Homo sapiens: one gene and its partner. The protein of the gene in region 1 purifies or fractionates together with the protein of each later gene. This does not show direct contact. Each region holds a gene or a part of one and is shown in the gene's direction. Other genes may lie near its edges.

The links. Proteins that work in one complex are often made in the same cells at the same time.
Region 2: the proteins of ACTRT2 (region 1) and SLC25A19 purify together in Homo sapiens (affinity purification with mass spectrometry; one large-scale study listed by BioGRID and IntAct). This does not show direct contact.

The regions. Positions count from the first base shown.
Region 1 is NC_000001.11:3,020,148-3,023,403, forward strand, and holds ACTRT2 (actin-related protein T2), read left to right. Parts: upstream 1-1,319; 5' UTR 1,320-1,539; coding exon 1,540-2,673; 3' UTR 2,674-2,756; downstream 2,757-3,256.
Region 2 is NC_000017.11:75,282,934-75,286,433, reverse strand, and holds part of SLC25A19 (mitochondrial thiamine pyrophosphate carrier), read left to right. Parts: coding exon 1-130; intron 131-2,840; coding exon 2,841-3,011; intron 3,012-3,500. UniProt on the Homo sapiens protein: Mitochondrial transporter mediating uptake of thiamine diphosphate into mitochondria. It is not clear if the antiporter activity is affected by the membrane potential or by the proton electrochemical gradient.

The DNA.
Region 1 (3,256 bases):
CAATAATCAAGTTTTTGTTGACTACCACCCAGGGATTAGTGGGGCCCACAAAACCACGTGTCAACAAGACACATCTACACCACACATCAACAACGAGTGTACCGCGCGTGTCTACACCACCCATCTATCCCATGCATCTACACGGCACATCCATATGCGTCTGTACCTCGTGTCTACACCACATGTCTGTACCACGTGTCTAGACTGCCCATCTACAACATGTGTCTACACCACCATCGGATTAATGCCTGCTGGTGGGTCAGCAGGGCAGGCAGGACACACAGAGGGGGCCACCAGCAGGAGCTGAGGGGCTCCAGGAAGGGAGTGACCCCGGGAGGCGTCCTCTGGGAGAACTCTGGGGGGCCAAGCTGGGCTGGAGCATGATTGTGGATATGACAGGAGAGGTAGAATAAACCTCACATTCTCCAAGGCCACCTCCAACCTCCTTAGGAAAAAAGTGAAGCTGGTTCCCAGGTTGGATCCCCTCCCACTTTCTCCCCAAGCGGAAGACAAAGCGGGGGTCTGAGTGCCGGGCGTGCACTGTTGTGGGTGCCCTTGGCCTGGCCCGGTGCCTCCTTCCTGGTCATGCTCAGGCCTTGACCTTTAATGGCCTGGTCACCTCTGAGCATTGCTCTGTGGTTGTGGCCTGACTGTGTGGCAGCTCATAGACACAGAGAGGTGTCACAGGCTGCAATCCAGGCTACCCATGTGAAACCAGCAGGCCATATCTTCAGGGCTGTTGGGTTCCCAACTCTATGGCTGCTGGACTTTGTTGTGTGCTGGCACTTCAGAGTCTGCAGAGAGGAATGAGGGGTGCTGGCCTCAAGCCAGAGCAGAGATGTATTCCTGGACAAAGGGCCAGCAGCCCAGAGGGCTTTGAATAGGGTCTACCCAGTGGGACAGACAGCCAGGACTAATGGGATGGAGGGAGGAGAAATCCCTGAGAGCTTCCTGGGGGAATCACTATTCAAAAGCACATTCTAAGTGCCTGCTGGGACAGAACTGCTTACAACACCCCTCCGACCTGGTGCTTGGTTTTCCCCCTTAGCAAAGGGAAGTGTTGTCACCCCAGAAGTTGCAGCTCAGGGGCCAGAGAAGCTGGTTTTCTAGGGTGCACGCAGGCTGGGCTGCTTCTCTCCACTCTAAAGCTAAGTCTCTGCCTCAGCCCACAGGCTTGTCCAGCACCGCCCTAGGATGCACTTGTCTCTCTCTCTCTCTCTCACCTCACCCTGTGGGGGATGGGGGACTCAGAGCCCCACCCCCAGGGCCTCTGAGGCTCAGGACAATCGTTGCCTTGGCTAGATTGTTACCTAGGAGACAACCCCCTGGCCCCCTGGAAGAGGCCTCAGCAGGCCCAGGCCACCTGGAGGGAGAGCAGACCTGCGGCTGAGGATGCAGGGCTCCCGGGCACGGTGCTAGCCCTGCCTTGAGACACCCCGAGAGCTGTGGGAAGAGCTGTGGGATCCCCTATTGCATCACAAAGCGGCCCTGGAGGGCTGGTCTTTATTTTGATGAGGCTGAGAAGGGAAGGCTGCGGGCATGTTTAATCCGCACGCTTTAGACTCCCCGGCTGTGATTTTTGACAATGGCTCGGGGTTCTGCAAAGCGGGCCTGTCTGGGGAGTTTGGACCCCGGCACATGGTCAGCTCCATCGTGGGGCACCTGAAATTCCAGGCTCCCTCAGCAGAGGCCAACCAGAAGAAGTACTTTGTGGGGGAGGAGGCCCTGTACAAGCAGGAGGCCCTGCAGCTGCACTCCCCTTTCGAGCGTGGCCTGATCACAGGGTGGGATGACGTGGAGAGACTCTGGAAGCACCTCTTTGAGTGGGAGCTAGGCGTGAAACCCAGCGACCAGCCCCTGCTTGCAACGGAGCCCTCCCTGAACCCCAGGGAGAACCGTGAGAAGATGGCAGAAGTCATGTTCGAGAACTTCGGCGTGCCCGCTTTCTACCTGTCGGACCAGGCGGTGCTGGCTCTCTACGCCTCTGCCTGTGTCACGGGCCTGGTGGTGGACAGCGGGGATGCGGTCACCTGCACTGTCCCCATCTTTGAGGGTTACTCCCTGCCCCACGCAGTCACCAAGCTCCACGTGGCGGGCAGGGACATCACGGAGCTCCTCATGCAGCTGCTCCTGGCCAGCGGCCACACCTTCCCCTGCCAGCTGGACAAGGGTCTCGTGGACGACATCAAAAAGAAGCTGTGCTACGTGGCCTTGGAGCCCGAGAAGGAGCTTTCCCGGAGGCCGGAGGAGGTCCTGAGGGAGTACAAGCTGCCCGACGGGAACATCATCAGCCTCGGGGACCCGCTGCACCAGGCGCCCGAGGCCCTGTTCGTGCCCCAGCAGCTGGGCAGCCAGAGCCCCGGGCTCTCGAATATGGTCTCCAGCAGCATCACCAAGTGTGATACCGACATCCAGAAGATCCTCTTTGGGGAGATTGTGCTGTCGGGGGGCACTACCCTGTTCCACGGGCTGGATGACCGGCTTCTCAAGGAGCTGGAGCAGCTGGCCTCCAAGGACACCCCCATCAAGATCACGGCTCCCCCCGACCGGTGGTTCTCCACCTGGATTGGAGCCTCCATCGTCACCTCTCTGAGTAGCTTCAAGCAGATGTGGGTCACCGCCGCAGACTTCAAGGAGTTTGGGACCTCCGTGGTGCAGAGAAGATGCTTCTGAAGGCCGCTTCTCGTTGGGTACCGTGGGGGGTGAACCCTAGCCCCAGCTTTGGGAGGATGTTCAATAAAGGACCAATGCCGGAACACCTGGCCACCTCGGCTCAGTTCCTTCTTGGGGGCGGCAGAGTCATTTCTGGCCCTGACAGTGAATCTGTGAAGTGTCTTGGTCCACACCCGCTCCCCTTCGCTTCCTCCCAAGAAAGCCTGGGCTGAGGCCAGGCTGTGTCCATCTGCAGTTTGTATGAAAGTAGGGCCCTGGGCCTCAGGTGAATAGGGCGCTGGAGTCCGCATTCTAAACAAGGGTCTTAGGTGGGCTGAGAGAGTCGGCAGGGATGGTGGGGACTAGCGCGTGCACCAGGTTCTGACGGCTCAGCAAGAAACCCCTCCCTGTGTGGGCCCTACCTAGCATGCCAGGGCCGGGGCTCTGCTTGTGTGAGGCCGGGCGGCTGAACAGGGTGGAGCTGCCGCTCTCAGCAGATAGGAACAGACGGGAACAGAAGTCACCGTTTGTTTAGGGCCCTCTAAACTCAGGGGTCCTGCTCCCAAAGGAAGTACAAAGAATCAACACTTCTGCTTAGCAAGTG
Region 2 (3,500 bases), on another chromosome or scaffold:
TGACCCCAGCGCAAAGTACCATGGCATCCTCCAGGCCTCTAGGCAGATTCTGCAGGAGGAGGGTCCGACAGCTTTCTGGAAAGGACACGTCCCAGCTCAGATTCTCTCCATAGGCTATGGAGCTGTCCAAGTAGGTGGCAAGGGACCTGGCCAGACCTCTGGGGTCACGTTGCTCAGTGGAGGAGCAGAGGGAGGGTGAGGCAAGCAGGAATGCCGCGCAGGGCAGGACGGAAGAGGCAGGCCCCACGCTTCCCACCTGCCTCACCCGGGAGCCTTCCTGACCAGCAGTACCGTAGGCATTGCCCTCCGCCATGTCCCTGCGTCTATCCTGTGTGACTTAGGTGTTGCATCTTGGAGACCGATTTGATGTCATGCCTTCTGTGAGGCTTGGCGAAGGACAGCACTAATGCATTTCAGTTTTTGAAATACCACCTTCACATATGTGGTTCATCTGAACTTCACCACACCGTCATGAGGAGGGCAGGGTAGCTGTCATGTGGATCTCAGGGAGGAGAAGTCAGCTGTCCGAGGCCACACAGCCTGCACATGGCGGGGCTAGGGTTAGAACTCATGCTTCGTTCAGTGGAGCACTAGTATAGTCATAGTGCACAGCATGTGATTTTATGCAGTAGATGTGTTTAAGAACCAGCCCTGTACAGTGCAAACCATGGGCCAGGCCCCTGTTGGAAGCACTTCACATACACTCTGTCACAGCAGTCCTTAAGGTAGGGGCTGTTGTCCCTCCCATGTCATGCATGAGAAGACTGAGGTGGACAGAGCTTACATAATTAACCCAACCAAAGCCACTGGCTAGAAAATGGCAGAGCCACGACCCCCACCTAGGCAGCTAGTGCCAGAGATGTCCCTTCCTACTCTTCCTGTGACATCACAGTGACCGCCCAAGTCAGGTGCTTACTGGCTGGGCATGCCCTGCGATCCTGTCTCTGCACTTGTCTGCAAACAGATATTGCAGCATGACGAATAAATACAGCAACAGGATAGTCTCAAGAAGCCAGGCGTGGGCTGGACTCAGTGGCTCACACCTGTAATCCCAGCATCTGAGCCCGGGAGGCGGAGGCTGCAGTGAGCCACGATCATGCCACTGCACTTCAGCCTGGGCAACACAGCCAGACCCTGTCTCAAAAAAAGAAAAGAAGCCAGGCCATCTTCAGTTGGCTGAAGGAAGATCTGAGCATAGCCCTGGTATAGTGGCTCACACCTGTAATCCCATCACTTTGGGAGGCTGAGGTGGGAGGATGGCTTGAGCTCAGGAGTTTGAGACCAGCCTGGGCAACATTAGGGAGACCTCCTCTCTACTAAAAATAAAAAATAAATTAGCCAGATATGGTGGTACACACCTGTCGTCCCAGCTATTCCAGAGGCAGGAGAATAATTTGAGCTAGAGAAGTCAAGGCTGCTGTGAACTGTGATCGAGCCACTGCACTCCAGCCTGGGCAACTGAGCACGACCTTGCCTCAAAAAGCAAAACAGGGCCAAGCTCGGTGGCTCATGTGTGTAATCTCAGCCCTTTGGGAGCCCAAGGCGGGCAGATTGCTTGAGCTCAGGAGTTTGAGACCAGCCTTGGCAACATAGTGAAACCCTGGTTCTACAAAAAATACCAAAATTAGCTGGACATGGTGGCATGCGCCTGTAATCCCAGCTACTTGAGGAGCTGAGGTGAGAGGATCACTGGAGCCCAGGAGGTTGAGGCTGCAGTGAGCCGTGTTTGTGCCACTGTACTCCAGCCTGGGTGACAGAGAGACACTCTTGTCCCTAAAAAAAAAAAAAAAAAAAAAAAAAGAAAGATCTGAATGTAAGGGGGTCACCCTGTGGAACATGCTCCCAAAAGAATCTGCCCCAGAAAAGAATGATTCTCGAACAGTGCCGCCACCAGGTGCCGCCGCCAGCTGCACTGAAGGGGTCCCTGCAGGAATCAGAGCATGGCCGTCTTCCCCAGTTCTCAGAAAACTAAGTTAGCCAGTGACATTTTCTGATATACATTGTTCTCATGTATCTTTTTTATTTTTTCTTGAGACAGAGTCTCACTCTGTTGCCCAGGCTGGAGTGCAGTGGCGCAATCTCAGCTCACTGCAACCTCCGCCTCCTGGGTTCAGGCGATTCTTCTGCCTCAGCCTCCCAAGTAGCTGGGGTTACAGGCCCACGCCACCATGCCTGGCTAATTTTTGTATTTTTAGTAGAGACAGGGTTCCACCATATTGGCCAGGCTGGTCTCCAACTCCTGACCTCATGATCTGCCCACCTCGGCCTTCCAAAGTGCTGGGATTACAGGCGTGGGCCACTGCACCCAGTCTTTTTTTTGAGACCGAGTCTTGCTCTGTCGCCCGGGCTGGAGAGCGCAGTGGCATGATCTTGGCTCAGTGCAGCTCTGCCTCCCGGGTTCAAGTGATTCTCCTGCCTCAGCCCCCCAAGTACCTGGGACTACAGGTGCCCGCCACCATGCCTGACTAATTTTTGTATTTTTAGTAAAGACAGGGTTTCACTATGTTGACCCGGCTGGTCTCGAACTTGTGACCTCGTGATCTGCCCGCCTCGGCCCCCCAGAGTGCTGGGATTACAAGTGTGAGCCACTGCACCTGGCCCCCATATATCTTCTTAACCCTTTGAGTGTCTGACTCTACTCAAGTATCAAATGGCATCCGAGTTTTGCGTAGAATGTTGTATTTATCATATGCTGTCACTGCTCAAGAAGAACATTTCCTGACCTTTTCCTCGCCCCTCCACCTGGGCCCCAGCCGGGTCACGGGTGATGTATTTGGGGAGTATTTGGTCCTCACCCTCATCCTTTGGGCTGTCGGTGACTTCTTCACTTACTCTTGCAGTTCTTGTCATTTGAAATGCTGACGGAGCTGGTCCACAGAGGCAGCGTGTATGACGCCCGGGAATTCTCAGTGCACTTTGTATGTGGTGGCCTGGCTGCCTGTATGGCCACCCTCACTGTGCACCCCGTGGATGTTCTGCGCACCCGCTTTGCAGCTCAGGGTGAGCCCAAGGTGAGTGGCCAGGAGCCAGACCGGGGAAGCCCAAATAAGGAAGGTGTTGTCACAGGGGTAGCATTCTTTATTTTTTATTTATTTATTTATTTATTTTTGTTTTGTTCTGTTTTGTTTTGTTTGAGACAGAATCTCGCTCTGTCATGCAGGCTGGAGTGCAGTGGTGCGATCTTGGCTTACTGCAAGCTCCACCTCCCGAGTTCAAGCGATTCTCCTGCCTCAGCCTCCCGAGTAGCTGGGATTACAGGCACCCGCCACCACGCCTGGCTAATTTTTTTTGTATTTTTAGTAGAGACGGGGTTTCACCATGTTAGCCAGGATGGTCTCGATCTCCTGACCTCACGATCCGCCCGCCTCGGCCTCCCAAAGTGCTAGGATTACAGGCATGAGCCACTGCGCCCGGCCTATTTTTTATTTATTTATTTATTTATTTTGAGACAGAGTCTCGCTCTGTTGCCAGGCTGGAGTGCAGTGGTGCGATCTATTTTT